Homo sapiens: one gene and its partners. The protein of the gene in region 6 interacts with the protein of the main gene of each other region in a pairwise test. Each region holds a gene or a part of one and is shown on either strand. Other genes may lie near its edges. The genes, in order: KIF1A, ARNT2, NDE1, DLGAP2, BEND5, TSPOAP1 and DLX2.

Region 1 (3,500 bases), on a different chromosome or scaffold from region 6:
CGCTGGGGCCCTCGGTGGGGGCAGCGACTGACTCGGGCACTCACCATCTACCACCCAGAGCTGGGACGCAGCAGTGCCAACCACCTCCCCAGCCAGAAAGTGGGTCGAGGCATCGAAGGGCACCTGGCAGAACCCCAACCCAGCAGGCCGGAGACCAGACCACCAAGCCAGCTCTGGGCCTCAGTTTCCCCACCATAAAATGGAAAAACTTAAAGAAATAAGCTAAAGTTGCTGAAGGCTGTCACACTGTACCCAGTGACCACGAGTTCCCCACCTGGGCCTTGGCTCTGACCCCACCCACTCCCCTGTGCTCTGTGCTGGTTCCCAGCCTAGGCATGTGGGTCACAGGGCCCTGCCTGACCTCCCAGCATGGAGCTGTCCCTCCATGTGGGTCAGGGGCAGCCTGCCTGAACCTCCAGTATGGGCATCAGGCAACCTGTCTGTCTCCCCAAGTATGAGGGTCCCTGTGCCCCCAGTATGGGGAGCAGGGTGGCCTGCCTGTCCCCTGTCAGCACAGAGCTGGTGGCGGTGCTTTCCAGGGAGGCCCCACACACCTGACTCGGATCTCCTGGATGTCAGGGACCAGCAGGCGCTGGGGCTCCTTGTCTGTCTCTGTTGCCCGGGCAGGGGAAGGGAGCTTCTTGGAGTCGGCCTCTGGCAGCAGCTCGGGCTCTGGGCTGGCTGGCCGGGAGCAGGGCTGCGGGGTCCTGGGAAGCAGAGGGAAGTGCTGCCCACTGCAGGCCTCCCTGGGCCTGGGGCCGTCTTCCCCCAGGCTTCACCCTCCTCAGAGCACCTCAGAAGGTGCAGTAGGGCACCTTCGCAGGGTCTCTCCAGCTGTGCCCACAGTGGGAGCTCCCGGGGCCCGTCCACCAGGATAGCCAAGCTTGTGCCCGATTCCAGGAAGTGCTGGGCTTGGTGGGCAGGGTCCCCCAGGAACCTCGGGGCCCAGCCAGGGAGCCTGTGCCCCACTCCACGCCCTTCTCCCAGTGGCTCTCCTGCCCCCACCTCCACCCTGTGAAAGCAAGTCCAGCATCTCTTCATCTCCACAACTAGACTGAAGGTGACACGAGGTTCCAAGGAGCCACTGGAGCAGAGGGTGCCGATGGCCTCCCGCATGGGCCCCCCACATGGGCCAGGCCCCACGCGACTCGACCTGGTGGTCAAGGAGGCCTGCAGAAGACAAGGCCAGCTGATGCCACCGTCTTTCTTATTTAAATGAAAATCTGGAACCCTTAAGGCGCTTAAAACAAGAGTGAAAAGCATCTGCCTGCTTATGAATTGTACATAAGGGGTTCACACGAGGTCTCTTCCAAATGCGGACCTGCAGGGGCCAGGTGTCCCCTCCACAATACTGACTCTAACGGCTCTCATGCCCTCTTTCGTAACCTTTTCTTTTTCCATTATTTTATAAGCACTGTCTCAGGAAAGGGGAGCTTTAGCTTATTTTCCACCCATTTCTGGTCTTCTTCAGGGAAGAGAACACACACACACTAGGATGGAGCTGGCGGGGCACAGGCACCCTCTGAGAGGGCTGCGGACTCCACTCCTCCAGGCCCTTCCCTCAGCCTGTGGCCACCCCAAGGCACTCGGCCATTGGGGCCCCCTGTTCTGTGCTCTCTGTGCCCGAGTCACGGCCATGGTCATGGGTCAGCCGTGGTGCCAGAAGCCACTCCGGGAGCCTGGAGCTCACTCACCTCAGGTCAGTGGCACCGTACCGCCCTTCAACCAGAGAGGGGCAAGTGGAGGAGGGGGTGAGAGTGGCCACCCCTAGAGGGGACATCGACGGGTCCCGGAGCAGGGTGACAGACATCTCGGAGAGCTGCGGAGGAGAGGCCTTTTTCAGGGGACACAGGGAAGGGGGGTCTCCGGCCTCTGTGGGAGCTGCTCCCTGTGCCTGCGCTTACCCCACACCTGCTGCTTAGGGCACCCCACCCCTCCTACCAGCAGCCTTGGCTCAAAGTTGGCCAGCTCAAGACCCCCGGCCCCCTCCAGCCCCTGTGGCCCCTGGCCGGCCCCTCCCATCACTTCAGGCTCTGGCCTGACCCAGGCAGCCACCCTGCCAATGCCTCGAGGAGTGGGCTGGGTAAGCTCTGCCCTGCCGCCTCCTGCCCATGCCAGCGTGAGGTGGCGCTGGGTGATGCCATGGGGACAAGGAAGGCCATGGGCCAGGGCTGGAGCTCCACGCATAATGCAGCACAGCAGCAGTTTCCCAGGCTACAGGGGTGGGGTCGGTCCCAGGAGGAGGAGGGACAGCCAAGTGGGAGCTTGACTGACTGGGCCAGAGGCCACAGGGTGATGGCCAGACAGGGTGGGGGCCAGGAAGACAGCAGAAGCCTGCAAGTGCATGGGTGCATCCAAGGCCACAGGACCCACCCGGCCCCTCACTCACATCCCCACCTCCCATGGACCCCAGGCCGACCCAGGGAAACCAGCCACTTAGGTATGAGGTGTCCCTCTGCACTGAGACGTGTTCCTAGGAAACTCTTAACTGCCTTTTCCCACTTGGAATGGGAGTTTTCCTCAGGGACCACTGCCTATGGGAGCCCGAGCCCTGCGGGGCAGCCTGGTGCAGCCCCTCTGCACCCACCTTGCTCTCGCTGGCACTGACGCAGACGTGGCTGTGTGTGTACTCTCTGTTGAATGTGTGCGTGAGCAGGCGCAAGCACTGTGGACAGAGCACACGCGTGGTCAGGGGCCAGGCCTCCCGGGACCCTGCTCAGACAGCCTTGCAGGCTCTTCTACCCACCCCTCCCCAGACACAGGTGGGTTCCGACGCCAGAGCACAGTGGGTCAAGGTGGGCAGCACCTCCACCCCGCCCAGGTCATCGGGTGAGCCCAGGAAGTCTCCCAGGGTCAGGCACCGGCTGAGGGCCTGGTGTGAGGGCCAGAGGCTGTGCTGCCTCCAGTGCAGGAGGCGCAGGAAGCCTTCCCAGAGGCCCGTTCAGCCGCCAAAAGAGCCACTTGTGGGTGGAAGTGGTGAGCTCCCCATCAGCACAGGTATTCAAGAGAGTGATTCATCGCTTGGGAAGGGAGGCTGCAAAAGGCACCCAACTTTCAGTGCAGGTGGGGTGCAGTCAGTGGGCAAGGGGACCCTAGGGACCCCTCAAGCTCCTAGCTCCTGGTGGTGCTAACCAGAGCAGCCATGGGCAAGGCCGGGTTGCTGGAGTTGCCCAGAAATGACTCAGGGCCCTTGAGGGCCTGGGGCTACGGCTGTACTGCCCACCAGCTGGACCCACCTTGACGGCCAGCTCCCGCTGCCTCTCGTTGGGAGCCTCCAGGGGTGATGGGCGGCCCTCAGCCGAGAGCGGGGAGGAGGCGCTGGAGGAGCCATGGGACTCAGAGTCCTCGCTGAAGGCCGGGGACAGTGCCTCCGGGACAGGCCGCTGGGCGGTCTCCAGCTTCTCCCGCAGGAGCAGGTAGTGCCTAGTCTTCTCCACCTTCAGACAGGACACAAGGCCTTACCTGCTGCACCTCAGGGGTGACCTCCGGAGTTGTGCTCA
Region 2 (3,500 bases), on a different chromosome or scaffold from region 6:
TGGAATTACAGGCATGCACCACAACACCTGGCTAATTTTTTTTTTTTTTTTTTGTAGAGACAGGGTTTTGCAATGTTGCCCAGGCTAGTCTTGAACTCCTGGGCTCCGGTGATCTGCCACCTTGACCTTTCAAAGTGCTGGGATTACAGATGTGAGTCACCGCGCCCTGCCTGCACAGAATTGTTCATAAGGCTGACAGACAAGCAGTTCTAATGGAAGCTTTTAACTTGCCACGTGGAAATTCAGATGTTTGGGCTCAGATTCACGCTCATCTGAGGAATCAATTCTGTAGAGAAAAGCTCTATGAGCCGCACTGCTGGGTGTCACCCAGTGACCTCACTGTGAGAAAGCAGGCACCAGCTTGGACTTCTTACCAGGACCACGGGTCTCTTATGAGCTTGTCCTGACGTGGAGTGGAACCCTAGCCCTGGGAGACATGCTGAGGAGGTTCCTTACACACACGGAGAGTGGGCAAGGCCCAGGATCCTGAGAAATGCACAGGACACAGCGGTTCCTTAACCCTCTATGGCCTGAGGTTTTGTTAACAAAGTAAGATAGGTGTTTTTAATATTTAAAAGAGACAGAAAACTTTGCAGTGTTATTTATGCAATTGATTGTCTCTATAGCTATTCTCTAGTTTCTTGAAACAAGACTATAAGGTTTTTGACTTGGGGGACCTGAAAATCCTTGCCAGGGCCATAATGGGTTAAAATGGTATTCAGATCACCTCACAGCACAGCAACATCATCCCAATGCCTTGAAAATGATAAAGTCAAATCACAAAGCCAAGGCCTAAGCATCCAGTCTCTTAGGAACACCATAGGCCTCCTCATAGCCAGAGAGAGAGGAGGTGCTTGGAAACCTCCAGACCTTGTTTTGGTAGCTGGGAGCTTGGAGCTCAGCCTCCTGAATTCAGGCTGTTCAGAAAGCATTTGTGCTGGCTTTCCCAGAATCTCACTCCCTCATTCCCCACCTACCGAACCCTGGAGTCCTGTTGGCAAGACTGGAGTAGGCATTCCCACTTGGCGAGGAGGTAGCTGGGCTGGAGAGGGGGCTGTAGGAAGAGGGGTCTGCCGGGTAGGTGTGGCTCGTTCCAATCCCAAAGGGAGATGACTGAGTCTTGCTGGACTGAGATGGGATTTGCTACAATCAGGACAAAGCAAAGAGATGGAAAGCATCACCAGCAGACCCCTGCACCCCAACCGATGCCCCAGGCTGGTCGCAGGGGCAGTGCCTGCTCTGGGTTGACAGTGACTCCCCATGACCCTCTTGTCTGGCTAGGCACAGGCCTGGGATCAGCCCGGTGTGTGAGGGCCCAGGAACTGCAGGATCTTTGGGGCACGTCTGGTTGAAGTTACTCCCCAGGGCTACGAGGATCCGGGCCCTCTGGAGTCTGGTTACCAAGGCCTTGGCATTATGAACACCTAGAACTCCCTCAGCCCAATCAACACCCACCCTCACAGTGACTATGAGGGTCTGGGGATGTCACAAGGGTTGGTGGTTTCATGCCCTCCTGGCGCAGGGGCAGCCAGAGGTCCAGAGTAGTGAGGGGCTCATTCTTGATGAGGTGTCTCAACCTGCCCAACCTTTCCCTGCCAGCTGCCTCAGGGCATGGCTGTAAGGAGAAAAGGCTGCTGAAGTTGCAGGCTGGGCACCTGGCTCTCCGAGAGCCCTGAGGGTGGATGGTGCTCCTGAGTAGCCAGCTGCTGTTAGGGTGGTTGGTTCCAGCTAGGAGCCGACCCATCCTCAGAACCGCAATCCAAAGAAAACACTTCCCAGAGTGCTCTGCCTCTCTGGTCACCCAGGGGAGATGCCCTCACAGATGCCCATACCTGTCCCGGAAAGGGCGGACGACTCCCTGTCCATGCCACCTGACTCTGGTTTAGCTGCCGGGAGATTTGGGACATGTTCTGGCCCGTGGAAGAAGAGGACTGAATATCATTCACTCCAGGCACATGAACCACTGAAGAGCTAGAAAAGAGGAAAATGCATTTATCCCGAGGACACACCTGGTTTGCATGAGTCTACGTGCCCAGCCAACCACACAATCTGCCCTGGGCCATCTTCCTGGCTCTCTCTCCATGCAGCACGTCACTAGAGAAAATGACTCACACATCGTGAGCCTCAAAGCCCCTTGGCCGTCCTCCTCTCCCTTCAGGGCTTCCTCTACACTGCTGAGTAGTCCTGCCATGTCTAGTAGTCTGGTACTTCCTCTCCTCGTTCTCCCCAGGGTCTCCCACGCACTCTTCAGCCCCTATCCTATGCCTGTACATCCTCTGCTCTCAGCAGATGATTTGGTTCCCAGAAAGAGAGAAGCTTCTTAGAATAAAAATCAGTCCCACTGTTCACTCACTCTTTTGTGCTCTGGTTAATTTGTTCCTTTGGGGCACCTATGAGGCTTAAGGATTCAGGAAATAGGTTGCAGGCTGTCAGTTTTAAACGGAAAGAAAAGCTTCTCAATGAAAACCTGCTGGATGGGGCCTAGTCCTGCTACCCAGAGTTTACCCCTCCCACCTTCAGTTCACCTTCGACTTAACTCAGTTTGTCTTTATTAGGCCCCTGCTGTGTGCCGTGCTCTCTGCATGGCCTTTGCAGGCTAAATCTCTGACCCTGCTTAGCTCCTCGGCAGGCACTGTCTGTACCACCAGGCGCTTCTTCCAGGAGATTTTCCAGGCTATGTCGATTACATGAGAAGCTCATCAAAGACTAAAAGGCTGGGGGCAGACTTTTACTTTGTTTCAGGCCCCTCCTCCTGCCTCCCTGGGACTAGCTCAGCATGCAGGGCAGTGCGCTGGGTGCCCATGAATCAGTCAAGTAGGGCAGAATGGGGCTCATCACAGAAGGCTTTGGTAGATTTTCAGCTCCGTGTTAAAAAAAAGGCAAGCCAGAGATCAGCAGAGATTGGGTAAAATTTTACTATTGTATTCTAATAAGTTTCCTATGCTATCTGATCCCTTTTAAAATAGGGAGAAACCAAGAATGTCAGAGACATTCTTGAGCTGATCATTGTAAAACAAGTTCAGTGGCTTATATAAAGGGGACATCATTTCTGTCTTCATACAATCAATTCCTCATTTAACATAAGGGCTCCTTTCCCATTCTCCTTCCTGATGAAAGTATTGCTTCAGAGGACATTTTCTGGTCACTATTGTCTAGTAGGACCCTCTCCACAGCCCCCAGCCCTTGGTGTCCTCCCCAAAACACTGACTGATGAGGGCCGCTACAGCGTAGACGGTCCTAGGAAAGGCGCCTTGGCAGAAAGGGATGGGCTTCTTGGGGCAAAGCGCCAGCCCTTGTGCACAGCCCTCCCTGGGGGCCTCTGGGCTACAGCTGCCTGCCTTAGTGTGGACAGGCAGGGGCCAAAACTGGCGGGACCAGAGAGGGAGGACTGTGGGTGAGGATGCACTTCAGGTGCCAGCAACACCATTCTGCAAGCGGCCCAGGATTCCCTATGGCTGTATTGGGCCCCAGAGTCCTTCATCCCACAGCCTACCCCATCC
Region 3 (3,500 bases), on a different chromosome or scaffold from region 6:
TTGATGGCAACCAATATATTTGGCTAAAACTTTGAAACCTCATCAGCATTTGCTCTTTTTCAGTTGGCACTTCCAGAGGTAGAATGTTGAAACTGTAATGAGGCATTTGGCCAGGCACAGTGGTTCACACCTGTAATCCCAGCACTTTGGGAGGCTGAGGCAGGTGGATCACCTGAGCTCAGGAGTTTGAGACCAGCCTGGACAACATAGAGAAACCCCATCTCTACTAAAAATAGAAAACATGAGGGTATGGTGGTGGGTGCCTGCAATCCCAGCTGCTCAGGAGGCTGAGGCACGAGAATTGCTTGAACCTGGGAGGTGGAGGTTGTAGTGAGCCAAAATTACACCATTGCACTCCAGCCTGGGTGACAGAGTGAGACTCTTGTCTCAAAAAAAAAAAAAAAAAAAAGACATTCATTAGTGGATTGTCCAAGTTGTTTTTACCTTTTTTTTTTTTTTTTTTTTTTTTTTTGAGATGGCGTCTTGCTCTGTTGTCCAGGCTGGAGTGCAGTGGTGCTATCTCTGCTCACTGCAACCTCTGCCTCCCAGGTTCAGCGATTCCCCTGCTTCAGCCTCCTGAGTAGCTGGGACTGCAGGTGTGCACCACCATGCCTGGCTAATTTTTATATTTTTAATAGAGATGGGGTTTCACCATGTTGGCCAGGCTGGTCTTGAACTCCTGACCCCAGGCGATCTGCCTGCCTCGGCCTCCCAAAGTGCTGGGATTATAGGGGTGGGTCACTGTTGCTGGCCCAATTAATTATTTATAACGTCGATTTGCTTTCTAATGTGTAACCAGTAGGTGGGGGATAAAAAGTAAAAATTCTTAAGTTTAATAAAGTAGTTGTTCCTAGATGTCCATCAGTAATGAAGTGGTTAAATGAAGTACATAGATGTATTTTGTGAAATGTTAATGGTTAAAATGAACAGTAGATAGAAATGTTGTGGTAGAAAGATTGCCAAGGCTAGGCACAGTGGCTGATGCCTGTAATCTCAGTGCTTTGAGAGACGGACGCAAGAGGATTGCTTGAGCCTAGGAGTTCAAGATGAGCCTGGACAACATAGTGATACCCCATCTCTACAAAAATGAAAATTGTAAAAATTAGGCCTGGTGGCATATGTCTGTAGTTCCAGCTACTTAGGAGGCTGAAGTGGGAGGATGACTTGAGCCCAGGAGTTCAAGGTTACATTGAGCTATGATTGTGCCACCGCACCCCAGCCTGGGTGACTGAGTCAGACCCTGTCTCTAAAACAAAAATCATTGCCAAGACATACCACTGAAGTGGGGAGAGTAAGTCATACACAGGACAACATATTGTATGTTTCCAGTAATGCTTAATAAAAAATTTTCTTGTTTTATGCTCAGTAGATACATACATATGTATAAAGTTTATGTTTGAAAATGGAGAGAACAGCTGGGCGCAGTGGCTCACGCCTGTATTCCCAGCACTTTGGGAGGCCAAGGTGGGTGGATCACCTGAGGTCAGGAGTTAGAGTCCAGCCTGGACAACATGGTGAAACCCTGTGTCTACTAAAAATACAAAAATTAGCCAGGTGTGGTGGTGCGTGCCTGTAATCCCAGCTACTTGGGAGGCTGAGGCAGGAGAATCACTTGAACCCGGGAGGCAGATTTACAGTGAGCCGAGACTGTGCCACTGCACTTAAGCCCGGGCAAGAGAGTGAAACTCCATCTCAAAAAAAAAAAAAAAAAAAAATTCAGAGAACAATGGTTGAAAAGCTCTCCCACATGTTATGGTGATGATGAGTGAGGAGGAGCATTTGGGGATAGTCTGGAAAGCATACTTTATTTATTTTTGAGACAGTCTTGCTCTGTCACACAGGCTGGAGTGCAGTGGCGTGATCTCAGCTCACTGCACTCACTGCTTGTCCCCCAGGCTCAAGCGATTGTCTTGCCTCAGCCTCCCAAGCAGCTGGGACTACAGGCGCTCACCACCACGCATGGCTAATTTTTTGTATTTTTAATAGAGACGGGGTTTTGCCATGTTGGCCTGAAAATTCCTGACCTCAAGCAATCCTCCCATCTCGACCTCTCAGAGTGCTGGGATTATAGGCTTGAGCCAGTGCAACTGGCCTTTTTTTTTTTTTTTCTTTTTTTTTTTTTTTTTTTTTTTTTTTTGAGCCAGAGGTCTCACTCTCGCCCAGGCTGAAGTGGTATGATCATGGCTTACTGCAGCCTCGACTTACTGGATTAATGTGATTCTTACACCTCAGCCTCCCAAAGTGCTGGGATTACAGGCATGAGTCACTGCTCCCGGGCATATTTTCATTTAGTGTTCTAAATACACTGCTATGTTGGAATTGTTTTTTCAATAATAAAAGCATTAGTGTGTCACTGTCATAGCTTTTTAAAAATCTGAAACCATTTTGTTAGTCAAGAGAAACATCCTGTAGAGTTCCAAGTCTGCTAGGCAAGGTCCTGTGGGTTTCCCTTTATTTGGGGTTTCTACCTGGAGTGTTTCACCCCAGTAGGTCTTTTTTCTGACTGGTATCTACTGTTGAACCTCTCTCCCTGCACCCCACCAACCCTAAGCAAGGACTTAAATTCCCTTTTTGTTTTTTGAGACGTAGTCTTGCTCTTGTCACCCAGACTGGAGTGCGCTGGAGCAATCTCAGCTCACTGCCACCCTGGCCTCCCAGGTTCAAATGATTCTCATGCCTCATCCTCCTGAGTAGCTGAGATTACAGGTGCCTACTACCATGCTGGGCTAATTTTTGTATTTTCAATAGAGATGAGGTTTCACCATGTTGGTCAGGCTGGTCTCGAACTCCTGACCTCAGGCGATCCACCTGCCTTGGCCTCCCAAAGTGCTGGCATTATAAACATGAGCCACTGCGCCTGGCTGAGGACTTGAATTCCTGAATCCTTTTTCTGGCACAGATTTGCGGCAGGAACTGGCCGTGCAGCAGAAGCAGGAGAAACCCAGGACCCCCATGCCCAGCTCAGTGGAAGCTGAGAGGACAGACACAGCTGTGCAGGCCACGGGCTCCGTGCCGTCCACGCCCATTGCTCACCGAGGACCCAGCTCAAGTTTAAACACACCTGGGAGCTTCAGACGTGGTAAGGGGAGTGGGAATTGCAGGATTTTCTCGGTTCACAAAGTGTTTCTGGGTAAGAATCTGGGGTGGGTCCTGGGGGTGTGATGATTTGCATCAGGCTCAGAGCCTGATTTGCTCTCAGGCTTTGAGCAGAGAGTAGACTGGGATGTTCTTGGGGATGGGCATTGAGATCAGTGAGGACTGGGTAAGAGGCAGTAGTGGAGTCTGATGAAATGGAAACCCCACCCAGAGCGGGTGGCTGCCACTCTGCAGCTACGAGGATTGGCCCTTCATCTGCAGCTTTTTCCATTCTTCAAAGCCAGAAATCCTCTTTTTTTTTGTTGGGTTTTTTTTTTTGAGACAGGATCTCACTCTGTTGCCCAGGCTGGAGTGTAGTGACGTGATCTTGGCTCACTGCAACCTCTTCATCGTGGGCTCAAGTG
Region 4 (3,500 bases), on a different chromosome or scaffold from region 6:
AATTCTGAAACTAAAGTGCTCTAATATCTTTTTAAGGGTGAGAGGATTTTGTTTTGTTTTATTTTGAAGATATCATCTTCCATAATGTTGAAATTGAAGAAATGCTATAATTTTTTTATTATATAACTGTATTTGAGGAAAAGCTTCATGACTCCTCAGTTATCCAAGGAGTTGAATGATGTATACTTTGATTATAGATTTTAAAATGAAGTTGATTAAATATTCTATTTATTGACCCTCAGGATGGATGCTCCATGGTCATTCATTGGATACAATAAAAATAACTATGATTCATCATTTTGGCCAGATGGGAGTCATATTTAGAGCATTGCCATCATGTTGGTTATAAAAGAATTACAGGCTGCCATACAGGAAGTTAGTAGGCACACTTTCTATGCAGTTAAAAATTATTCTTAATCAACCGTAGTTTTACCAACTAGTTTTCATCATACGAGGCTTTCTAGTGCCACTAACTTCTTCAATATGTTTTGTTGTTTCCTGGGTACTTGTGCGTACAAAAACTGAGCATAGTGATTTCACGTGTGCTCATGACAAAAGACTTTAATTTCTAGGGAAGTTAAGCAGATGGGCTTTGGCATTGACCAGGCATGGGGTCGTAGGGTGTGCAAACTCTAGTTTAAATCTTGCATCTACTGGTAGCCACCTTTCCCTTCCAAGGCTTAACAGCAGTAACAAATTAATCTCCTCAGCAAAGGCAGTAGGAGCTCATTTGTAAAGCTCTGTTTTTCTTTTTTCATGTCATTCTTCTGTGCACTGACTTCATCTGCCTATGAAAATCTTCTCCCAGTCCTCAGGTCATGGGCCTTGACATGCAGTCCCTTAACTTTAGCTCCAGGAGAGGGGCCTGGGTGTTCTGACATCCCGGTGATGGGTGTCCGCTGCAGGTGCACCTCTCCTGACTTGATGGCAGTGTCTTCATGTGGGATGTCAGTTGCCTTAGTTCTGGAAGTGTCCTGTCTGTATTTATTGGCGGGCCTTCAGGAGTTGAGCTTTCTAGACCCGTTACTGCAGACTCCAGTGTATTTGCAGTTCAGTGTACGCTTCCCTTTCCAGGCAGCAGCCAGCTCCCCTTAGGGAACACCTGCCACCTCATGGGGTTGGCTTGGCGGACCCTACTTCCCGTCAGAGGTGGCTCCTGACTGGCCGGAGCCCTAACTCCCTCTCAAGAGCAATTGGATGAGTGAAGAGCGGGAACTTTCAAGGAGAGGAAAGCTTTAGGAAAAACAGCGGGAAAGGTGTAAGGCCTGCAGTTGTGGCATCAGTGCACAGCCTTGCAGGGATGGCCTGTCTGGAAATGACACCTTCCTCATCTGTCTGTGGAGGAGAAGGGCGGCTGTTATGCAGAGAGCTTGGTCCTGAGGATGCTGTTGGAAGCTCTGAACTAAGTTATGCCTGAACCATCATTACCCCGTGACTTTCAGTTACATAAACCAGGAGATTGTTTCTTTGAACTGAGTTTTCTGTCCCTGACAAGCAAATGGGATGTATGGGCTTTTAGTTTCTTCAGACATTTCCACATTAAACCTCTTGTTGCAGGGAAAGGCTTATTCATCTTCGGGTACTGTTTCTTATATGGTACATCGTGTGTATCGGCAGGAAAAAAAGAGAAAAATTTAAATCAACCATTTTAAACAATGAATAAACATTTGGAAATAGCCCATCTGTAAACTTGTGTTAAAAATTTTTAAAGTAACCTGTGAATCTGACTGATCGTTGTCTTTAAAATGTTTCATACTCTGTACAAAAGAAGAAAAATGGGAATGATCTCAAGGGTCCATAGAGTATGTATTTTAAGTTAGGCGGTATTGAAAAACATCCTTTTGTGTGTAACGAATGTTTGTCCTGTGACTTTTGCACAGCATTGCAAGTGGCTTTTTAGAGACAGGGTCTCCCTCTGTCACCCAGGCGGGAGTGCACTGGCATGATCATAGCTAACTGCAGTCTTGACCTCCTGGGCACGAGTGATCCTCCCACCTCAGCCTGTCTAGTAGTTGGTGTATGTCACCGCACCCAACTAATTTTTACTTTTTTTTTTTTTGGTAGAGACGGAGGTCTTGCAGTGTTGCCCAGGCTGGCCTTAGATTCCTGTCCTTAAGGAATCCTCCTGCCCTGGCCTCCTCAAGTGCTGGGATTACAGGAGTGAGTCACTTTTCCCAGCTGCATTTGGCTCTTTATTTGACCTCACCGTATTTCAGTTTTCTCATCACTAAGAGTGGGGCCAATGCAATATTAACTTGATAGGGTTAAGGAGGATTAAATGAATTCATGACTGTAAAGTGATAAGAATGGTGCACGTAGGAAATGCTGGATTAGTCTTGACTATTTTTATCATGAAAAAATACAATTGAGGCCTACTTTGAGTCAGTCCACAATGGAAGTTATCAAGCAACTCTTTGATTTCTCTCAAAACTGTTTTATTTATTATTTCTGGTCTTGTTTTACTTTTTTGTATATCTCTTGCCACTTTCCAAAAAGTTTTGGACCCAACTTAACCACAGAAGGACAAGGGAAAAAATGCTAATTAGAAAATAGAAATAGAAAATCGGAAGAAACACATGTGATAACCATGAGGATGGATGTAATTCTCTGGGCATCACGTTTGACACTGAGCTTCCAGGGAGTCAAGTCAACAAAACCCAAAACTACAAAGCCATGTTCAACCTGAGGATCATGCTTTCAGGGTAGACGTTGCATACTCATTTTTTGGTGAAGATAAATTTTCTCTGGCACTAACTTGTAAGAGATGTTCTGAGGGTAGATCTTATATTCAGGGGCTGGGGTTGTGTAATATATAACAGTTAAAAATACAGAAGTATTTTTTAATGATTTTGTCTTGATTTGGTTTCTTTGAAATAAACCAAAAGCAAAACTCACATGCACAGCCTACCCTCAGCACTGATGACCTCTTCTTGGTATTTATTTACTTACTTATTTAGAGACGGTCTCACTCCTGTGTTTCAGGTTGGAGTGAGTGGCATAATCTCAGCTCACTGCAGCCTTGACCTCCTGGGCTCAAGCGATCTTCCCACCTCAGCCTCCCGAGTAGCTGGGACTACAGGCGTGCACCACCACACCCAGCTAATTTTTTGTATTTTTAGTAGAGATGGGGTTTCACCATGTTGTCCAGACTAGACTCTGACTCCTGGGCTCTAGCCATCAGCCTACCCCAGCCTCCCAAAATGTTGCGATTGTGGGCATGGGCCACTGCGCGATGCCTTTTGCTGGTATTTGCATGTGATTTCCGTGGCCGGGTCTTCATGTCTGGATCACTCACTAAGCTACTGTGGTTTAGGGCTGAAGACGTGGATTCACGTCGTGTGTCCTGCAGACAACAGCAGTTTCTCAAGTTTCACGTGCCTTCACGTTTCCTCTGAGTCTTTGCATCTAAATGCCCAGACACCTGTTTTAGCTGAAGGAAGTGACTTGTTCTGGTGGCCGTGGCAGTCTATGGATGGAGCCATCATCGTGGTTCTCTCAGA
Region 5 (3,500 bases), on a different chromosome or scaffold from region 6:
TCTGGTTTCTGAAGATTGCTCTGGTTACATAATGGAGAGAGGAGTCTGGAAGCTGCCAGAGTAATGGAGGGGAGAAATGAGTGTGGGCTATGAGAAGGGCAGTACTGTGGAGAGATGCAGATGGTTCTCTCCATATTTGGAAAAAGTAGAGAAACTTTAAAATGGCTTAGAAAATGGGGGAGTGGATCAGCAGTGGTTTAAGAGAGATTTGGGGCCAAACAGATGGGTAGTGAGGGATGTGGAGGAGTCAAGGATGAGACCTGGGTGCCTGGCTGGTGGTACTATTCACCAAGACAGGGAACATAGAAGAGGCAAAGGCTTCACAGAGAAGGAGAGGAAGAAAGAGAGAGAAGTGAGCAGTGCAGTTTTGCCAATGTCATGTGGGCATCTGTGAAGAGATAACCAGTGGGCACTTTGATCATAGATCAAGAAATCAGAAGTGTGAATTGAGTCAAATACAGATTTGGGAATCATCATTCATTGAATCAACAAATATTTATTGAGCACTTACTATAGGCTAGCCCTGAACAAGATGCTCATAAAGTTTAATTCTAATGGAAGTGGGAGAAGAAAGAAAATTAACAAGTAAAAAAAGTAAATAGGAAATGCTATGCAGAGACTTGGAGTAGGGTGATGTGACAGACAGCAATGGAGAGGCTACTTTAGACTGAGTGGCTGGGGAGGCCTCTCTCAGTGACAGGGAGGGAGGGCACGCAGATCAGGAGCAAGGGAGTAGCAACAGAAAGGACCTGGAAGAAGGCCTCCAGGGCTACAGCACAATAGCAAATGGGAAGTGTGGTATAAGATGAGGTCAGAGGCGTCCCAAAGGCAGATCATCTGTAACAGGTGAGGAGTACAGATTTCAACCCAAAGTCAAGGGCACACTGAAGGCAATGGGAACAATAGGAAGTGAGGAGAGAAGCTGAGGAGTGCTTGGTAGGATCAGCGAGAAGATGGCTGGACACAGAGGAGAGGGCCCATCAAGGAGACTGAGAAACCAGAGAGATGGGAAGAAATCCCCAGCGTGCAGAACAGGTTTCTCAGTGAAGGAGGAATGATCGTGTCAAACAGTGCCAGTGAGACTGTGAGAAACACACAAGGATTTAGAGACGAGGAAGTCACTGGGGACCTTGGTGAAAACACATTAAGCAGAAGGCTGGGAGGGGAAGGCAAATGGCAAAGGCATTACCAGGGAACACACACAGTGGGTGTAGCTCGTCTTTCCAGGAGCCTGCATGTGAAAGAAGGGAGATATGATAGCAGCTGGGTGACAGAGTGCCCTTTAAGGAGGGTTTCTTTGCTTTTGTAAGAAATGAGTGATCAAATATATTTACATGATGCTGGGAAGGAACCAGTAGTAGAGCAGGAGCATAACTGAAGGAACAAGGTACTTAGGAAGGCAGGTGGACTGAAATCCAGAGCCCAGATGGAGAGAATCACCAGCCCCAAATAAGGAACTCCTTTGGGACAGGAGGCAGGAAAATGGAGGACATAGTTAAGTCTGTAGGTGTGATGCCTCAAAACTGTGGAAATTCCTTTATTTTCCTCTGTGAAAGAAGAGACAAGGCCTATCTCTTTGATTGATGCGAACTATCATATTTGGAAAAAGTAAAAAAATTTAAAAACGGCTTGGAAAATGAGGTAGTAGATCAGGGAGGGAAACTCACACAACTTGGCAGATGATGCTGAGTTCCAGCTGGGGTTGGAGCTAAGGAGTGTGTAATGGCCCAAGCCACATGCATGGCTGAGGTGTATTCTTCTACATTGCTGCACTGCTACAATCCTAGGCAGCCCTGACTATCTTACGAGGTAAGATGATTTCAGCTTAGTTTTCAGCTAAGAAATCTGAAACATGGAGAGAAAGTGATTTACAAGAAATCACACAAAATTTGGTCAGGCGATCAGCTTGTGGGTCTCTGTGTTTCTTCTGTTCAACCTTCGTTTACTGAGTGCCTACTATGTGCCAGACACTATGTTTGGAAATGAGGCCACAGAGATGAATCAGATACAGTCCCCAGATCCCTGAAGGAGACACACAGCAGATGATTTTATACCATGTGATAATGGCAGGAATAGACAGTTATCTGAAGGCACCCAGGACCTCCTGAGTCACGTTCCAACAAACATAGCAGAATTAGAGGTCGGTCACCTACCAGGCAGGGCAGGGCAGGGCTGCATCCCCAGGATGGCCTTTTTCTCAGGGTGACCTCCCAAATCAGGCTTTACCATTTCAGACAGCAGCAAGACGAAAGGTTACCTCTGATTATCCAAAAATAAGCGGCTGCCTAAATCAATTAATCCGGAGTCAGCCAGGCAAGGGAGGCAGCTATGTTACAGCAGAACAAGCCCCAGACCAGAGTCGGCGGGTGTGTGTTTGAATCTAGGCTCTGAAACCTTATAGCTTTGACCTCAGGCTGGTTGCTTACCCTATGTCCTGCCACCTTGAACTCCAAAATACACCCTACACTTGGGCATATTTCTCCACCTCCACTGCTGTGCCCTTAGTCTATGGCAGCAGCATCTCTCACCAAGAGCACTGTATCAGCTTTGTAACTCATCTCCCATGTGGTCACTCCATGACTGGAAGACCTCCATTGCCCTTTGACTCCAGCAAATCCAAGCTGCTTACTGTGGCCTTCCCAGCCCTACAAGACAGGCTCTCGCCCACCTCCCTGACCTCACTCTTCCTTCTACATCCCAGCCATCTGGGGCTTCTTCACACCCGGAGCATGCCAGCCTTCATACCTGCTGCTTATTCTGCCTGATTTGCCACCCCTCAGACCATTATAAAGATGCTTCTTCCACATCCAGATTGCAGCTCAAATGTCACCTCCTCAAACAGACCTTCTCCAACTACCCCAGTGAATGCAGCCCTCTCTGTCCTACCACATCATATGAGCAAGCTCACAGTACCTGAAGTTATCGAGCTTGTTCCTGGACATATTTGTTGTCTGCCCCCAGAGTCTGCTGAAAACATATGTGTTGACTGACTGAGTCTTACTTTCTTTATGAAGACATGGCAGACCTGGACACTAGTCAGTGGTTAGGAGCACAGATTCTGAAGACAGCCTGCTGGCTCGGGTTCCTGGCTCTCCTCCCACTAGCTGTATAACCTGGTCAAGTTACTTAACATTTCTGTGTCTCAGTTTCCTTGTCCGTAAAATAGGAATTATAATAGTAGCCAACAGTAGGGTTGCTATGAGGATAATGAGTTAACATACATAAAAGTGTTTTTTAAAAGAGAACCATTTAACAAAAACCCCTAAATCCTGAAACACAGTTAAGTGCCTAAAATAATTAGCAACTACTTTATTCTCTTTGCTCCCTCTACACCATGGTCTGTCTCTATAGTTTGTGTTTTCTGTAGAGTAACTAGTTGTTTTTGTGTTTATCTTCCCTGTGAGAATATGAACTCCTTGCAGATGAAGGCTGTGTCTTACCCCTCTTTGTGTCTTCAATACCCATTAGAGGGCCTGGCAAAGAATGGATGGATGGAGGGA
Region 6 (3,500 bases):
TGAGGGAAGCTGGCAGGCTGCTGGACACCAGCTTTGCCACTCACTCATTCCACAAGCATTTACTGTGTGCCCGGCACTGTGCTAGGCGTCGGGGAGACTGTGGGGAACAAAGACCAGGTCCCTGAGCAGTCAGCAAATTAGCATCCAGGAGTGAGCTGATTTCAGACACTGATGAGCACAGTGGTGGAGAAGAACAGGGTGATGTGACAAAGTGACTGGGATGGGGTGAGGAGCCACTTTAGAGGTCATCAGGGAAGGCCTCCCTGAGGAGGTGACAATTGACCTTGCCAGCCAGGAGGTGTAGACATGCACATGCTCTGTGGCAGGGAAGAGCTGAAGAAGCCTGAGACCAATGTGGCTAGAATACAGCAAGGGATGGGCAGCGTGGTGGGAGTAGACAAGAACCCGATCCTGTCGGGCCTTAACGGCCATGGGAAGAGTTTGGGTATTTTGCTCTGTGAGTAGATAGAAGCTCCTGAAAGATCCTAAGTGGGGGAGTGACATGATCTGAGTCATAATTTTACAGGATCACATGGCTGGTATTATGGAGGGTGGACTGTGGGAGCAGGCGTGGAGCAGGGCCTGGGCGGTGGCCTGGGAGGGAGATGGTGGCTGTCTGGACAGAGATGCATGCAGTGGAACGGGAGACAAGTGCCTGGGTTTGAGTTATGTTTTAGAGATAGAACTGACAAGGTTCTGGCCGGGCATGGTGGCTCATGCCTGTCATCCCAGCACTTTGGGAGGCCAAGGTGGGTGGATCAGTTGAGGTCAGGAGTTCGAGGCCAGCCTGGCCAATATGGTGAATCCCCGTCTCTACCAAAAATACAAAAATTAACCTGACATGGTGGCGGGCCCCTGTAGTCCCAGCTACTCAGGAGGCTGAGGCAGGAGAATTGTTTGAACCCGGGAGGCAGAGCTTGCAGTGAGCTGAGATCGTACCATTGCACTCCAGCCTGGGCGACAGAGCGAGACTCCATCTCAAAAAAAAAAAAAAAGAATTGACAAGGATCCCCGTGGGATTCCAGTTGAATCCCTTCTCTGACAGCCATTTGCTGTATAAACCTTGGTGGAGGGTGGGGCTCTTCATACTCCGTGAGGTGAAGGATGAAGGGGCAGCAGATCTGAGAGGTAGGTCATCCCGAGTGCTGAGTTCCATTTGGGCCATGTCTGAGCTGCGCGTTAAACATTCAAGGGGAGCTGTCCACAGGCACTTGGATACATGAGCCTGGGGTTATGGGTAAGTTGGTCTTGGAGATATTTGGAGCCACCAGTGTGTTTAGTTGTATGAGTAGATGGGAGCCCTAGGAAGAGAGTAGACAATATAAACTGGGCCCAGCACTGGGTCCAGGGTAACCCTAACATTCAAAATGGGGGACAGGGAGCAGGCAAAAGAGGCTGAGAAGGAGCATCCAGAGAGGTAGGGGGGAAACTGGGAGGATGGTTGCTCAGGAAAGAGGGGAGCTGACTCAGCCACGCTTCTCCTGGTCCCCTTTGCCTTCTGGTCTAAGGTATGGTTCAGGGTGGGTGTTCAGGAGGGAGAAACCCTTCGGCCTCCCCCTTCCCTATCCCTCTTCCCTCTCTCCCTACCCTTTTCTTTCTCCCGGCTTCTTCCTCCCCTGCCTCTGTCCTTTCTACCCTTCCTCCCTCGCAGCCCTCTCTACTCCACCCCATTCCTTCTCCTTCCCTCCAGTATTTTGGTTCCCCCCACCTGTAGGCCCAGGCTGAAGCCCAGAGGGAACATGAAGGAGCCGTGCAGCTGCTGGAGGTAGGGCGCCTGGAAGTGGCCCCCAGTTCCACCATCTTGGGAGGAAGGCGGGGGTCCTCCAGATAGAGCTGAAATGGACTATGGCGGTGGGGAGAGGGGTTGCAGGAGGGGCCCTTAAATGCTCCAGGACCTGGGGGAGTCCCCTCCACCACTGGCCTATTTCTCAGGGTGGGCACGGCTGGGCAGGGGGCTCCCAAGTCTGGTGGCAGCAGTCTCCCATTGCTGCCACCCCCAGAGGCTGCCTTCACCCTGAGATATCCTTCCATTTAGGAACTGCTAGTCAGTCCAGGGAGCTGACTGGATGATATCCACTTAGGCCCCCTTCTCCGCCTCCCTCTCTGGGTTAGCAACCCACAGCGCTCAGGGTTCTAACCTGTTCTCTGCTTCCTTTCCTGCAACAGTCTACCTTGGATTCCATGCAGGTAGCGCCTCGTTCTCCACTTCCCCACACCTCTCCAGGCTGGCTGAGTTGCATCTCCTCCCTCAGGGCCCAGGCAGTCCCCCTCTCTCATCCAGCAGAGGGGGTGTCACTGGGAGCAGGCATGAGAATCCATAGGGGGTGGAGTTCCCACAGGACACGTGCGGCTGTCCCCTTGTCCCAGGCCTGCCGCCGTGTCTGTCAGACACTGGGCCTCCCCTCTCTAGCCACCCTGATCATGAGGAAGTTCATCACCAGTCTAACTTAGGAGCCTCGCCATAGTGGCCGGAGAGAGCCCCTGCTATTGGGACTCTCCTCAGACCTGAGAAAACTTCCCGGGCATTGGCCCATTCCCATCACGAAGACATCCCTGGCTCCCCTGTGGAATTTCCTGCCCGCCTCTCTCAGGGAACGGGTTTGAGTTGCTGATTGTGGGAGGGTGATGAGCAGTGGAGCTGAGAAAACTCCTGCGGTGATGGTGGTGATGATGGGGTGGGAATGATCCCTGTTGGCCTAGAAAGCAGCCAGAGGCAGAGGTGCCATCGCCTAGGGCCTGAGGGTTGGTGAGTGTGTGGCAGGCCCCGGCCTTGGCTCTGGAGGGGGCTGGGGTGAAGATGTCCCAGGACACAGCCCAGGACTTCACCCTCCGCTCTGATGCATTAAGGACAGTGGGGTGGCCAAGGCAAGGCTGGTGCCCAGGCCTGGGGCTGGGTGGATGGATATGACCTGAAACCCAGTGTAGGGCTGTGTACAGATGGCACGGGCTGGCACTGGGTAGCTTTGAGGGGCCTGGCGGCTCATGGTGGGTCTTGGCCCAGGCCCGGGTTCGAGAGCTCGAAGAACAGTGCCGCAGCCAAACCGAGCAGTTCAGCCTCCTGGCACAGGAACTCCAGGCTTTCCGCCTGCACCCGGGCCCCTTGGATCTGCTCACATCTGCCCTGGACTGTGGGAGCCTTGGAGACTGCCCACCACCCCCCTGCTGCTGCTCCATTCCCCAGCCTTGCCGGGGGTCTGGCCCCAAAGGTAAGGTGGACCCCAGTGGCATTGGCCTGGAATCCCCAGGCCTGGGCTTTTGGATAGAGCAGGGAGTTCAGGATCAGAGAAGGCCAGCAACTCATCCAAAGTCACACAGCAGGTTAGAGCTGTGCCTGGCTAGAACCACGTTCTGTTGGGGAAAAATAAAGCCCAGGGGAGTGACTGTCCCAGAGTCTGGCCCAGGCATCGTGGGCCACTGCTCCTCTCCTTCCAAAAGGACCTGAATGGTCAGACCTAGGGGTTGGGCACTAGGAGTCAGTAGCAGGCAGTGTGGCCTTGTGC
Region 7 (4,045 bases), on a different chromosome or scaffold from region 6:
AACTGCAGCGTCCGAGCTGAGCCCAGGGGAGCGGGCGAGGAGAAAGAAGCCTCAGAGCGCCCGGGAAGCCTCGCGCGCCTGGGAGGCTTCCATCTCCCGGGACCCAGCTCTCAGCCCGGGGCGAGGAAGGCGCCAGACAGGCTCACCCGGAGGGGAGGGAAGGCAAGTCCGAGGCGGGGCTCGAAACAGCCGAGACCCGGGGCTCAGGTCAGAAATGCGGCCTTTTAGGGAGGCCTTTGCCAAGCTGCTGTCCGGTTCCCCCGAGAGAGGGGCCCGTTTGGTGGCCCCGGGAGTGAGCAGGGCCTGAGACGGGCCACTGCAGGTCGCAGCCTGCAGGAGAGGTGGGTGGCGGCAGCGGGCCGGGAGGAGGGAACCCCGGCTCGGGGTAAGCAATGAGGATAAGTGGTCTCTGCTCTCAGTCTCTGGCGAGTTCTCCCTGGGGTTAGAAAATCGTCCCCGCGCTCACCGGGGCGCCCCCGCCGCCGTGATGGTGGTGGTGGTGATGCGGCTGCGGGGTCTGAGTGGGGTGCAGCAGCGGCGCCGTGGCCTGCAGGTGTGAGGCGGATCCCGAGGTCTGGTGGTACCAGGGGTAGTTGCCCAGAAAAGCCGAGGCCGCGCTGCTCGGGCTGGAGCCCGAGCTGCCGGCGCCGCTGCCGCCACTGCCCGGACCACCGCCGCCCGCCATCCGCTGCGGCACACCAAAGTCCCAGGAGGCCGGCGCTGAGACTGGCGGCGAAGCACAAGGTGGAGAAGCGCTGGCCCCAGGGTGCTGCTCCGAGGGGATCTCACCACTTTTCCACATCTTCTTGAACTTGGACCGGCGGTTCTGGAACCAGATTTTGACCTTTGAGGAAAAAGACCTGAGCATTAGTGGAGGAACCTAGTCTTGGGGCAGTAGGGGTTCGAAGAGGAGAAAAAAGAAGGCAGAGAAAAACCGCTGGCTAGCGGTGGGCAGCGAGCGCCCTGGGGAGATAAGAGGATCACGGGCGGCGGCCTTCGAGGCTCTGCCGGTTCCTGCTCCCTGGGGAGGTAATTGCCAAAAGGCCAGGACTGCTGGTGTACGTGCACTGTGATGATGGTGACAGCGGGAGGGTGAGGAGGGCCAGTTATTTCACCCGCTTAATCAGTAGCGAGAGGTACGGGATTTCTGTCCACCCGGTCCCTTTCCTTCCCTCCCACGGCGGCCCCTTGGGGGTTTCCAGCTTTGGGCCTAGAAGCTTACTTAGGGCCGCTCGAGGCGCAGGCCTGGAAATCCTTAAAAGTACTTAAAATGAACTTTAAAAAGCATTGTCCTAAACCCGCCTGCTTCCCAGCCATCTCAGGCCCGCGCTCTCCTCGCCCCTGCAGGGCGCGAGCCCCACCTGAGTCTGGGTGAGGCCCAGAGAGGCCGCCAGCTCGGCTCGCTCCGGCAAGGCCAAGTATTGAGTCTTTTGGAAACGCCGCTGAAGAGCCGCCAGCTGGAAACTGGAGTAGATGGTGCGGGGTTTCCGGACTTTCTTTGGCTTCCCGTTCACTATCCGAATTTCAGGCTCAAGGTCCTCCTTCTCTGCAACGATAAAGAATCGTAAGAACAGCGCAACCCAGGGGTCCTGGAGTTCCCGCCCTCCTAGAGGGCCCGGCGGGGGGGACTTGGCTTGAGCAAAGAGGTGGGTGCACTGAACTGTGGCGCCACGGGCAGGCGCAACTTCGCAGCGTGCGATCGGAGCCGCCACCGACCCCGGGAGCTGTACCCTCCAGGGAAGGGGGAGACAAGTGCACACCCAAGAGAAAGAAGCTGGTGGCAAGGAGATGCCCTTATGAGGCAGGCAGAGCACGCCCACTTGGCTCTTGAGGCCACCAGGTCCTACCAAAGGAGAGAGGGACGTAACCGGCGACCTGCGGCAGATTGGAGGCTGGGGAGGGTAAAGGGCACAAGCGGGCGGTGAGCAGGCAGCGTGAAAATCCAGAGCTTTCGAAGGCCCCCCGCCCCAAACACGTTTACCCATCCATCCCATTAACTAGACCGACTCGGCACTCTTGACTTCAGCGTTATGCATACCAGGCTCGTTGTTGGCTGGGGACGAACTGGTTCCATAGGGAGCGTAGGAGGTGTAGGCGGCGGTGTAGCCCAGGTCATAGCTGCTCTTGGCGGAGTAAGGGACGTTGTTGAGGCCGCTGGCTTGGTACTGGTAGGAACCCATGTGCGCGTAGGGCGAGCCCCCGCCGCCGCCGCCGCCCGCCGGGTGCTGCTGGTTGGTGTAGTAGCTGCTGTCGGTGGCGGTGGACACCGGAAGGGTGGGCGACTCCTGGGGCTTGTGGAGGCTGCTGCTGCTGCTGCTGTTGCCACCCGGGCCGGCGCCGCCGCCGCTCGGGGGCTGCTGGTGCTGGTGGTACGTGCTGGAGGCGGCGATCTGGGTCGAGTGCATATCAGCCACTAGACTGTCAAAGACTCCAGTCATCCTGGCCCGAGACGGGAAAGAGCAGAGGTGGCGGGCGTGCGGGGGAAGCCAGGCGCCTCCTCTGTCTCTCCCGGTCCCCTCCAGCAGCCAATGTAATTACGGGGGTGGTGGTGGGGAAACAAGAAAGGAGGCAACCGTCTAGGCGCCTCCTCCTCCGGGGGAGGCGATCACCGTGCGCTGCTCGGGACAGCTGCCTCTGGTCGCATCCTCTTTCGGCCTCTGGGCCCGCTCGGCTCCTTGCCCAGCGCGAGCGCGGGCTCTGGCGGGGGGCGGGCAGTGGAGGGGGCAGGGGTGGCTGGGCCGGGTCGGGGCTCTGGGAGGCGGGAGCAGGTGAGCGGCCCCGAGCGGCTTTACGATTGTCTGCCAGGCGGGCTCCTGAAGTGTGGGCATTTAACACTCGTCACGTGAGCGCTGGCGACGTCACCTAGCAACAGCCAATCAGAAGCAAACGGCCGCGGAGCTCCGGGAACGCCCGGCCAAGGGGCGGGCGTCACATGGTGGGCGCTGTGGCTGCGGCTGCGGCTGCAGCGGCCCCAGGTGCAAACAGACTGCCGCCGAATGTGAGCAGCGAGGCGAGGGGTCGAGGTAGCGAGGAGTCAGGGTGGCCCGCAGCAGGAAGACAGAAGGCGTGGAGACAGACTGGCGTTTTGCCTCAGAGGAAGAAGTGGGGTCCCCTCTCCCATTCTGTGAGCAAGTGCCAGTTCCAGTGATTCGTACTTTCATGTCCGAGGTCAGTTTTCAAACACATTAAAGTACATCGGTGCCCAGAGTCCAGCCAGCTCTATCTTCACTTTTCCTCGAAGTGTCTGGCATTTATTCTTGTTAGCCACTCGGCACTTGACATAATCAATTGATTTAATTATCCACAAACCACGTGTAATGCTCGCTTCTTAACCAATCCGCAGGGATATTAGGACAATTAATCATATAATATTGAAACGGGTTTTCCTTGTTGCTTCAAAGAGAAGCTACATAAACTTAAAGGTATTATTGCTAATAGTATATTTGAAACCACTTTCCCTGGTACTTTCCCGACACGCGAGACTCTGAGTAATTATATACGTTTGATAAGTAAATGACACCCTGAAAGCCATCCCGAGGACTTCCTCCTTCGGGTGGAAAGGTTCACCAGTTGTCCTTGAAAATTCGATGCTCTTGCGAAAAAGGAAATAGGATAATAGGTGAGATTATAGATTTATCAAGTAGATACTAGATTTATCACTTCTCTGTAAATTTACAACAAATATAAAAAGTTTTATCTGGTTTGTTGAATTTAATCCTGTTTTACAGTTTTGCATTTTAGGACCCTGTTCTACCCTATCATTGCAATTTTTTTCTTTTCCCTCTGTTTTTTAAAAAATCGGAAATGGTGACTTCCTCTGTCTCTATAACCTTGTAGTTGGAAACCTTGGCCCGACGGTGATGGACTGCACGACTTGCTGGACTCCCAAGTCCGAAGTTCCTGCGGCAGCGCTTGCTTTGTGGCGCCACCTGGTGGGCAGTGTGCGAGGTTGCGGGGGGCGGGGTAGACGGTCTAATCACGCCCAGGCGCCAGCCTCTGAAACCCCCCAAAAGAACAAAATAGTAATTAAAAGCCACAAAATTGT

The links.
Region 1: the proteins of TSPOAP1 (region 6) and KIF1A interact in a two-hybrid assay, tested with the Homo sapiens proteins (one large-scale study listed by BioGRID).
Region 2: the proteins of TSPOAP1 (region 6) and ARNT2 interact in a two-hybrid assay, tested with the Homo sapiens proteins (one large-scale study listed by BioGRID).
Region 3: the proteins of TSPOAP1 (region 6) and NDE1 interact in a two-hybrid assay, tested with the Homo sapiens proteins (one large-scale study listed by BioGRID).
Region 4: the proteins of TSPOAP1 (region 6) and DLGAP2 interact in a two-hybrid assay, tested with the Homo sapiens proteins (one large-scale study listed by BioGRID).
Region 5: the proteins of TSPOAP1 (region 6) and BEND5 interact in a two-hybrid assay, tested with the Homo sapiens proteins (one large-scale study listed by BioGRID).
Region 7: the proteins of TSPOAP1 (region 6) and DLX2 interact in a two-hybrid assay, tested with the Homo sapiens proteins (one large-scale study listed by BioGRID).

The regions. Positions count from the first base shown.
Region 1 is NC_000002.12:240,719,220-240,722,719, forward strand, and holds part of KIF1A (kinesin-like protein KIF1A), read right to left. Parts: intron 3,438-3,500; coding exon 3,237-3,437; intron 2,666-3,236; coding exon 2,588-2,665; intron 1,820-2,587; coding exon 1,695-1,819; intron 708-1,694; coding exon 555-707; intron 1-554.
Region 2 is NC_000015.10:80,578,882-80,582,381, reverse strand, and holds part of ARNT2 (aryl hydrocarbon receptor nuclear translocator 2), read right to left. Parts: intron 2,353-3,500; exon of another isoform or gene 1,972-2,352; coding exon 1,833-1,971; exon of another isoform or gene 1,144-1,832; coding exon 978-1,143; exon of another isoform or gene 1-977. UniProt on the Homo sapiens protein: Transcription factor that plays a role in the development of the hypothalamo-pituitary axis, postnatal brain growth, and visual and renal function. Specifically recognizes the xenobiotic response element (XRE).
Region 3 is NC_000016.10:15,688,245-15,691,744, forward strand, and holds part of NDE1 (nuclear distribution protein nudE homolog 1), read left to right. Parts: intron 1-2,899; coding exon 2,900-3,079; intron 3,080-3,500. UniProt on the Homo sapiens protein: Required for centrosome duplication and formation and function of the mitotic spindle. Essential for the development of the cerebral cortex.
Region 4 is NC_000008.11:740,628-744,127, forward strand, and holds part of DLGAP2 (disks large-associated protein 2), read left to right. Parts: intron 1-3,500.
Region 5 is NC_000001.11:48,731,892-48,735,391, forward strand, and holds part of BEND5 (BEN domain-containing protein 5), read right to left. Parts: intron 1-3,500. UniProt on the Homo sapiens protein: Acts as a transcriptional repressor.
Region 6 is NC_000017.11:58,318,796-58,322,295, reverse strand, and holds part of TSPOAP1 (peripheral-type benzodiazepine receptor-associated protein 1), read left to right. Parts: intron 1-1,714; coding exon 1,715-1,765; intron 1,766-2,166; coding exon 2,167-2,187; intron 2,188-3,001; coding exon 3,002-3,206; intron 3,207-3,500. UniProt on the Homo sapiens protein: Required for synaptic transmission regulation. It probably controls the recruitement of voltage-gated calcium channels to the presynaptic membrane, and modulates neurotransmitter release.
Region 7 is NC_000002.12:172,100,101-172,104,145, forward strand, and holds the start of DLX2 (homeobox protein DLX-2), read right to left. Parts: upstream 2,801-4,045; 5' UTR 2,439-2,800; coding exon 2,039-2,438; intron 1,547-2,038; coding exon 1,362-1,546; intron 845-1,361; coding exon 443-844; 3' UTR 1-442. UniProt on the Homo sapiens protein: Acts as a transcriptional activator. Activates transcription of CGA/alpha-GSU, via binding to the downstream activin regulatory element (DARE) in the gene promoter.